Linked DNA regions of Homo sapiens: region 1 is linked to region 2. Evidence: fine-mapped expression QTL. Tissue or cell type: whole blood. Region 2 holds a variant in brackets; the other region holds the start of a gene. All regions are shown on one strand. Distances are between the middles of the regions.

Region 1 (4,000 bases), 28 kb after region 2:
ATCCTAGGGGAGGCGCAGGATGGGCGACAGAGCCAACCCTTCAGAGGAGTATTACCTCACCTGGGTGTCCTGGAGCCACAGAGACTGCAGGCTGGCGGGCTGTAGCTTCTTACTGCTGCCCCCTGTCTTGACCACCTGCTGACCCACAAAGGGGGAGACCAAATGGTGAAATTTCCTCACCAACGGCCCTTCTGGCATCCCTGTGGGCAGAAATGGGCAAAAGAGGCCACCGACTTAGCTCATTTATCTCTAGCATCTTTAACAGGTGCCAAGCATCCTCCATGCCGCCATTTTTGCTGCCAACTAACTTTAAGAGCAAGCATGGCCAAAAAGGGAGTGTGGCTGGGAGGCGGTCAGATCATAGAGAAGAGCAGCTGTGGCAGGGTGTGGGAAACGTAGCAGGAAAGGCAGCCCCTCTTACCTTTCTTCATGCAGCAAACACTTATTAAGCACCAACAGTGTGCTAGGCAGCACATCATGGGCACCATCCACTTTATTCCTGAGCGGCACCTGCCACACCAGGAGCTGGCCTTTGTTACTTTTTGCCTGGACTGTGAACCTCTAACACCTCCTGACTTTCTCTGTCCCCCTGCTCCCGCTCTCAAAAAACAGCCATTCTGACCCACTGCTGCCGACTTATTTCCCACTTTTGAAGGGACCAGATGCCGCCCTCCAGGACCGCCGACCACTAGCGTGGGGGAGGTGTGCATGAAACGACCAACACGCAGACAGAGCTCAGAATCATAAGTGAGACCCCCAGCCACGTAGGTAAGCCCGGCATAGCTACAGACAGTTATCTCTGATCCCCGAGAAACAGCTGTGGTTCTGTTCTAATCACCACGCAGGGCTCCCAGGGCCACCTCTACTCTCCCTGCCCCCAAATCATCCCAGTCCACTGACAGCCGCCTACATGAGGCAGTCTGAGTGGTGTACACCCGGGCTGTTCGGGCAGAGGAGACTCCCAGCCTCACCCGGGGCAGCTGCCTAACCACCTGTTCCTGCACCAGCCTCTCTATAAGTTATGATGAAAATCGAAAAGAACTAAGTAGATATCGGGCAGGGGGTAGCTATTATATTTCAGTGATTCTAAAAAACATTTTAGAATACTTTTAAAATCTAAGAAATGGTGACGGCTCACAATCTCGGCATTCTCATATTCGGCAGCAGCACATTCAATAACGCGCATCTTACACTCGCTGGTGCCGATTCGCTGAGATGTACTATTTCCCCTCATCAGGCTTTCCAGACACTCCCCAGGGAATCCTGACAAAACCGCCAGGCTGGAAGGAGACGTGCCAAACGCTGCTGACCTTAACCAGTTGGATGCCTGATCCTCTTCTACGGGGAAGCTTCTGGAAAAGCCTTCATCTGAAATGCACCAAGTCCTGAAAATCTCCGGACACGTGGGCATGTTTCGTTTAGGGATTTTTATGGAGATGGACAGGTGGGAAGCAAGCCGCCTCTGCAACAGCCTTGAAAGATGAGACGCGGAAGGGACTTCGAAGAGTCGCTGAAGATGCCGCGCCCACCCTCCGGCCCTCCCTGCCCGGGGGCTACCGAGGAGCTCGAGGCTGGCGCTGCGCCAGCCAGGGAAGAGGAGGGGTTGTCTCCGCCGTTCTCTTCCGAGTGCCCGAGGTGGGGGGTCTAAGACCACTGCTTTCCCAACTCTGCCTCGGGGTGCGGGGAGAGGGGCGCAGACGCGGGTCTGAGGGTCAGTGGGGGCCTCCAGGCGTGGGCAGCACCTCCGCAGGCGGCTGAGACGGAGGAGGGCCCGGGGCCCGCCCTCCCTTCCTGTCCCCTCCCGACTTCTCCGCCAGGCCGCAGATCTACCGGAGGGCGGGCGGCTGCACTCACCGGCTCCGGGTGGGTGGCACGTCGGCCCGACCCAGCACCGCTACGCAGCCCGCACAGCCGCTCCAGCTGGGGGCGGAGATTTCCCGGCTCGGCGGCCCATGCGGCCTCCGTCCCCTTAGGGGACGCCCCTGTAGGTGGAGGCTGCGGGGCTCCTCCCCCAAGTGGGCGTGGACTCCGGCCTGGAGGGGGTGGCGGGGTGCGCGCAGGCGCAGGGCTCATTCCCTGGAAAGTGGGTCTAGGTCGAGGCTGCTCTTTTGTGGGTGGGCGAGGGGTTCCATCCCGGGGGTCGCTGGAGGCAGGGCTGCATTAGAGGGTCGCGAGTGAAAGCAGGGATGGAAGAAGGGTGCAGGCTGGGACTAACATTGGAGAGACGCTCTTGGAAACTTTTTTTTTTTGCGGGGGGAGATAGTCTCGCTGTGTCACCCAGGCTGGAGTGCAGTGGCGCGATCTCGGCTCACTGCAACCTCCGCCTCCTGGGCTTAAGCCATTCTCCTGCCTCAGCCTCCCGAGTAGCTGGGATTACTGGCGCCCGGCTAATTTTTGTATTTTTAGTAGAGACCGGGTTTCACCATGTTGGCCAGGCTGGTCTTGAACTCCTGATCTCAGGTGAGCCGCCCTCCTCGGCCTCCCAAAGTGGTGGGATTACAGGCGTGAGCCACCGCACCCGGCCCTTTTGGAACATTTCTTGTCTCAAGGAGACAGTTATAGGGAAAAGTCAATGGGTGTGTGAATGGGACAGCCTGGGTGTTCCCACAATGGCAAGCCTTTCTGTGGGTTCTGCTTGGCCTCCGAGCCTAATGAAGTCGGGTGCAAAGGAAACAGGTGTTCAAGACTCGTGAAATGTTGAACGGGTGGGATTTTTTTGCTTTCTATTATTTGAATTTTATTACTTGAATTTTTACTATAAGCAAATTTTGCTTAAAGTATTTGTGTATTAAATTTTTTATTTCATAGAATAAAAGAGATAAAACAATAGGCTGTTTAAAGATACATATGTTTTCTTGTCTTTAGTTCTCGAAGGAGGATGGGGAGCCAGCACTTTCCAGGAAGTTGGGAGGAAAGTCTGGGGAACTCCCCAGCAGGTGTTCAGGAAATAGGCTGGGGTGAAGTCACCATGGACCCTAGCTGAGGGGTCCCTGGGGAAGGACTTGGTCAGCACAGGGAAACAAGCCCAGCCCACCGTCAGAGACATGGTTGTGTCCTACTGATTGAGAGGGAGGTTACAAGTGGCCTTCCCACAGTGGTCACCTACTGAACAGGCTAGGGCAGGAGGTGAGGAGAGGGAGGCCTGGGGAGGCCTAGGGTATAGGGTCCTCATCTAGAAAGGCATCTGGAGGCAGAGGGGATGAGGTTGGAGGGCATGGGGTTTGCAGGAGGCATCCCTTGAAGAGCCTCTGGTCCCCCTCTTTCTATGTCCGGCCTTTTCTGGAGAATAACGACCCCCCCACCCCCAGGATGCCCCTGCTATAGGATCAGGCTCACCACAATGGTAGCTTCTGGGCCCCCTAGTTTCTCTTTCTGTAGAGTGGCTGAGCCGGGAGGGAAGCCGTAGCCACAGTCCTCGCCTTACCTGGTGGAATGAATGCCTGGTGCCTAAAGGGGTTCTTCTGAGGCTAAGGGGCTATGCAATTGAAAATCTCATGGTTCACAGCTTGGCTCTGTCATTGATTGTTATTGTTTATTGAGCGCGTACTATGTGCAAAACACTGTTGTGAGCTCTTTGCATATATTGCTTCATTATTAGTTGTGGGGATACAAGCAAGTCACAGTATCTCTGACTTCATTCATTAAATGGGATATCTATTAAATGGTATTATAGAAATATCACAAAGCCACGCTTCTCAAACTTCAATGTACCTATGAATCCCCTGGGAACCTTGTTTAAATGCAGATTCTAAGGTCTATACCAGGGCCCAAGATGTTGCCTTTCCAGCAAGCTGCTGGGTGACGCTGATGCTGTGGTCTAGGGGCCACATTTTTGTTTTGTTTTGTTTTCCGTGACATAGTTTCACTCTTGTTGCCCAGGCTGGAGTGCAACCCAGGCACGATCCCAGCTAACTGCAACCTCTGCCTCCTGGGTTCAAGGGATTCTCCCGCCTCAGCCTCCCAAGTACCTGGGATTACAGGCACGCACAAGCATGCCCAG
Region 2 (5,075 bases):
CCAATGGAAACTAGACACAAGCAGTGGGGTGGACGAGTCAGGTTATAAATGACCCTGTCTCCTTTGTTTGGTATACTCCCATGGCAAAACTGCTGGCGAGTGTACCCTTTCTGCAGGAAGTAAAAATGGCCTGCTTAGTAAATTAATGTTCAAGCGCCTTTTTTTTTTTTTTTTTTTTTTTTTTTTTTTTGAGACAGAATTTCACTCTTGTTGCCAGGCTGGAGTGCAGTGGCACAGTCTCGGTTCACTGCCACCTCTGCCTTCTGGGTTCAAGTGCTTCTCCTGCCTCAGCCTCCCGAGTAGCTGGGATTACAGGCGCCCAACCACCACGCCTGGGTAATTTTTCGATTTTTAGTAGAGACAGGGTTTCACCATGTTGGCCAGACTGGTCTTGAACTCCTGACCTCATGATCCACCCTCCTCGGCCTCCCAAAGTGCTAGGATTACAGGCAAGCCACTGCGCCCAGCCTTCGAGTGCTATTTCTTCTTCATTTTTTTTTTTTTTTTAAATGGAGTCTCACTCTGTCGTGAGGCTGGAGTGCAGTGGCGCGATCTTGGTTCACTGCAACCTCTGGCTCCCAGGTTCAAGTGAGTCTCCTGCCTTAGCCTCCCGAGTAGCTGGAACTACAGGCATGTACCACCACGGCCAGCTAATTTTTTTATTTTTAGTTGAGACAGGGTTTCACCATGTTGGTTAGGATGGTCTCAATCTCTTGACCTCGTGATCCGCCCGCCTCAGCCTCCCCAGGTACTGGGATTACAGGCGTGAGCCACGGCTCCCAGCCTACAAGTGCTATTTCTTTCCAGCACCAGGGAAAAAGCATTTCAAATAACGGGACAGGAGATCAGATAGCCCTCATTGTACCCCCTTCCTTTTGGAGTTCATACACAACTGGCTGGCATTAACATTAAAACAGAGATCATAAGACTAACGGAACAGACTCTGTGGCAATAAGATACCCAATTATAAACAGGACCTAAGGCCATGCAGGCAATGGTGAAGTCAGGCACCCCTACACTTGAAGAATCAACTAAGCTCTAACTGCCACAGGGCTCTTCTTTTTCTCCAGCAGCTAAACGCTGGCCTTGAGATAAGCAATAGTAAAACACCTGCAGCTCCACCAGACAGTGACTAATTGAACCCCTGTTCCACCAGCCATAACTACAGCTTTGACTGGTCAAGAGATTGATCTCAGTAACTTTCTCCTGATAAGACCGCCGACCGTGGACTGGTCTGGCCAGTTTACAGAAACTGTACACTCAAGGCGCCTTCCTGTCCTAAAAAGACCTTTTGACCTATAGGGTGTAATTGTAATGCATTCACATGTTGAGTCTCTATCCCAAAGTGAATATGGGTCATATATTACATACATGTTTGTTCAATGTGTCAGGTCCGCCATCATAAATATTCGTAGCTCCTCTTGTAATCTGTTAAATATGTACGTTTAGCCAACCCAGTCAGCATAAAGCTCCTACCTCAAACGCCTTTTCCTTCAAAGTGCCCGTCTGTGGTCTAAGCTGGAAGCATGCTGTAACCCTTTAGAAGAAATAAAGGCTCTTCTCCCTTTCTAAATTGATAAATCATATTTTTTAAGTCAACACTAGAAATCTAAGCTCAGTGACGACACACCTTTGTTTTGCTCACTAATGTCCCCTCAACCATCTGGAATAGTGCCCAGCACATACTGGCTCAATGAATATTTATTGGGTGCTCAATGAGTATTTATTGAATTGAGCTGCGTATAGGACACGATGGTGCCTAAACAATGCAAAGTTAGTTAACGTGCCCATTCTTTAAATCTCTCTTCCATTAAATCTGCTTCTCCTGTGGATAGCGTTAACAGCCTCTCAGTTTTGTAATCACAAAATCCAGGTGTCATTGATAACGCCCTTTCTCTCCTTATATCCACCCCTTCAAAATCATTCATCAAGTCCTGTGGAGTCCAAGAAAACAAATACCTTTCATTTTAATCTCTCCTCTCTGCTCCATCTTGGTTTAAGCCACATCTTCTTTCCCAAACCATGTTGAAGTTGACTTCCCCTGTCCTTTCCCATATGGCAGGTAGAGTTATTCGTCTAAAACACACACTGGGCTGGGTGCAGTGGCTCACACCTGTAATCCCAGCACTTGGGAAGACCAATGCAGGCGGATCACTTGAGGTCAGGACTTTGAGACCAGCCTGGCTAACATGGTGAAACCCCGTCTCTACTAAAAATACCAAAATTAGCTGAGCGTGGTTGTGGGTGCCTGTAATCCCAGTTACTCGGGAGGCTGAGGCTGGAGAATCGCTTGAACCCACGAGCCGAGATCACCACACCACACTGCAGCCTGGGCAACAAAGTGAGACTCCGTCTCAAAAAAATAAAAAATAAAAACACACACTTGATTATAATCCTTCCATTTTAAATTCCTCCAATGAAATGTCTTCGAATCAATGGATTGATTTAAAGGAAATCAAGCCTTCTGGCATAGAATAAAAACGTCCTTGCCATTTGGCATCTACATCCTTTGTTGGGATTTCAGCCTCCTGTCCACCCATTCTTGTACTACTTTCACACCCTGATCCAGTCCTAGCAGCACTTATTGTCCCCCGAACAGGCTACAGTACTTCACATCCGGCCTTGGCCCAAGCAATTCACCTGCCTGGAATAGGCTTCCTGCTCCTTGCCTAGCCACCTGCCACGCCTCCATTACAGCTCAGGTGGAATCTGCTTCAGGAATCCTTTTCTGGTGTTTCCTGGCCTCTCCTTTATCTGTTCCCCTCCCCCACCGTTTTTTTTGTTTGTTTCTTTTTTTTTTTTTTTTTTTTTTGAGTGTGTGTGAGAGACAGACAGGGTCTTATGTTGTCCAGGCTGGCTCAAACTCCTAGGATTAAGGATCTTCCCATCTCAGCTTCCCTAGTAGCTGTGATTATCTGTTCTTTAAATGCAACAAACATTGGCTGAACATCTACAATGTGGCAGGAGACATGGGAAAAAACAAAGATGAGTAAGATAAGGTTCCACACCCAAGGAGCTTACAATGCAGAGGAAGAAACAGACATGTTATGTGATGGTGCTATTTGTTAGAGAGCCCCTAATCCAGCTCCCTCAGTCTGACTTAGGTGTCCACTTGGAAGCTGAACATACGAATGGATAACAGCCAGACACTATATAACAGAAC[C/T]ATGGCTTAAACAACCGCTGCTGCAGGCAGTCCAAGGAACTCAAAATGAGATAGAAGGCGAGATTCGACTCCAGAGGTGGGGTTCAGACAGCCGACCAAATTGAGGACTAGCTAAAACAGGGAGGGGCCGAAGCAGCCGTCCTTAAGACACGCCCACCAGTTTGCCATGTCAGTTTACCATTGCCATCGCAACACCCAGGATTTACCACCCCTTTCCATGGCAATGACCCAACAACCCAGAAGTTACTACCCTTTTCCTACAGATGTCTTCAGAAACTGTCCTTTAATCTGCGTGCAATTAAAAGTAGATATAGATCTGACTGCACAACTGCCCTGAGCTGCTTTCAGCACACTGCCTGCGGAGCAGCCCTACTCTGCAGGAAAAGTCACGGAGCTGTCACACTGCCTCTTTAATGAAGTTGTTTTCTTCCACCTTACCACTGGCTCACCCTTGAATTCTTTCCTGGGTAAAGCCAGGAACCCTCATGGGCTAAGGCCCAATTTGGGGCTTGCCTGTCCTGCAAGAAAACCACAACCTCAGCAGCAATCAGCCCCAAATGGTCAGGACTCTTGCAACTCAGAATCAACCACAGAAAAACAAATAGGCTCCTCAAACCAATCACTGAAGACACCTACCTCTATCAGCTGCTTCCAACTTCCCCAGGCCAGAAGCCTCCAATCAGAGCACTGCTGCAGCCTTCCCCTTTTCCACCGTAAAGCTTCCCACTCCCCTGCCTGCCTCGGAGTGTCCACTAAGTACAAAACTCCCTTACTACAGCAAGCTCCGAATCAAGAACCTTATTTGTTTGTGTTCATTGGGCTGATCTTTACTTTCACAGACCTCAGTACTTCTACCATGTTCAGTGGTTCCTCCCAACCTGAACTTTCTGTATTCTAATAATCTCTTGTCTGTTTCGCCACCTCACAGTGGCCCCCTCAAGCACAAGGGCTGGGCCTACACAGTATCTGGCGGAGTGTTTACAGCGTAATCAGATCAGTCCTAGAAAGCTCAGAACACAAACAGTCCAGTCACTTAACCCCCATCCTCACACAGCACTTTTTCCATTAACAGAAACACTTTACATACTCCCATTACAGTAGGATTTGGCTTTGTATTTTGTTTAGCCTTGTATTGCCAAATCCTAGCATTTAGGAGGCATTTAAGAAATATTTATGAAATGTCTAAAGCCACTGTGAAAATCTATGTTAAATCCCCCGTTTTTCACAATGTCAGTTATCACAAAACCCCAACTCATGAACTAAACCAATCTTTCACCTTAGAGTCTGTCGAGTCCAAGTGTGTCCGGAATTGGTTGGTTCTTGGTCTCACTGACTTCAGGAATGAAACCGCCCACCCTCGCGGTGAGTGTTACAGTTCTTAAAGGCGGCGTGTCCGGAGTCTGTTCCTTCTGATGTTCAGATGTGTTCGGAGTTTCTTCCTTCTGGTGGGTTCGTGGTCTCGCTGGCTCAGGAGTGAAGCTGCAGACCGTCACAGCGAGTATTACAGCTCTTAAGTCGGCGCGTCTGGAGTTGTTTGTTTCTCCCAGTGGGTTCGTTGTCTTACTGGCTTCAGGAGTGAAGCTGCAAACCTACCCTGTGAGTGTTACAGCTCATAAAGGCAGTGCAGACCGAAACAGACAAGTATTAAAATTTATTGCAAACAACAAAGCTTCCCAAGCGTTGTAAAGCAAACCCAGCGTGTTGCCACCGTTTTTTTTAAGGCAGCCCGCTTTTATGCTCTTATCTGGCCCCACCCACACCCTGCTGATTGGTCCATTTTACAGAAAGCCGATTGGTCTGTTTTACAGAGAGCTGATTTGTCCGTTTTGACAGGGTGCTGATTGGTGCGGTTACAATCCCTGAGCTAGACATAAAAGGTCTCCACCTCCCCACTAGATTAGCTAGATACAGA

The links. PIP is the estimated chance that this variant, and not a neighbour inherited with it, causes the effect.
Region 1: NEIL2 starts here. The variant in region 2 is fine-mapped to the expression of NEIL2 in whole blood (INTERVAL, PIP 0.90).

The regions. Positions count from the first base shown.
Region 1 is chr8:11,767,646-11,771,645 of GRCh38, reverse strand. It overlaps NEIL2 (nei like DNA glycosylase 2), which reads right to left and starts at 1,936. Exons shown (of 5, transcript NM_145043.4): 1 at 1,311-1,936; 2 at 61-200. The coding sequence starts at 198. It overlaps LOC124901888 (a long non-coding RNA gene), which reads left to right and starts at 196. Exons shown (of 2, transcript XR_007060824.1): 1 at 196-768; 2 at 1,238-2,844. RefSeq lists silencers at 1,546-1,675, 1,716-2,125 and an enhancer at 1,286-1,786.
Region 2 is chr8:11,795,376-11,800,450 of GRCh38, reverse strand. All of the region lies in intron 1 of LOC105379243 (a long non-coding RNA gene), which reads left to right. It also overlaps a transcript of FDFT1 not described here. Among named protein-coding and RNA genes, the nearest start is that of FDFT1, 4.8 kb to the left of the region's middle. RefSeq lists a silencer at 89-148 and enhancers at 1-436, 4,917-5,075. The variant C/T (reference allele first, on the strand shown) is at 3,164.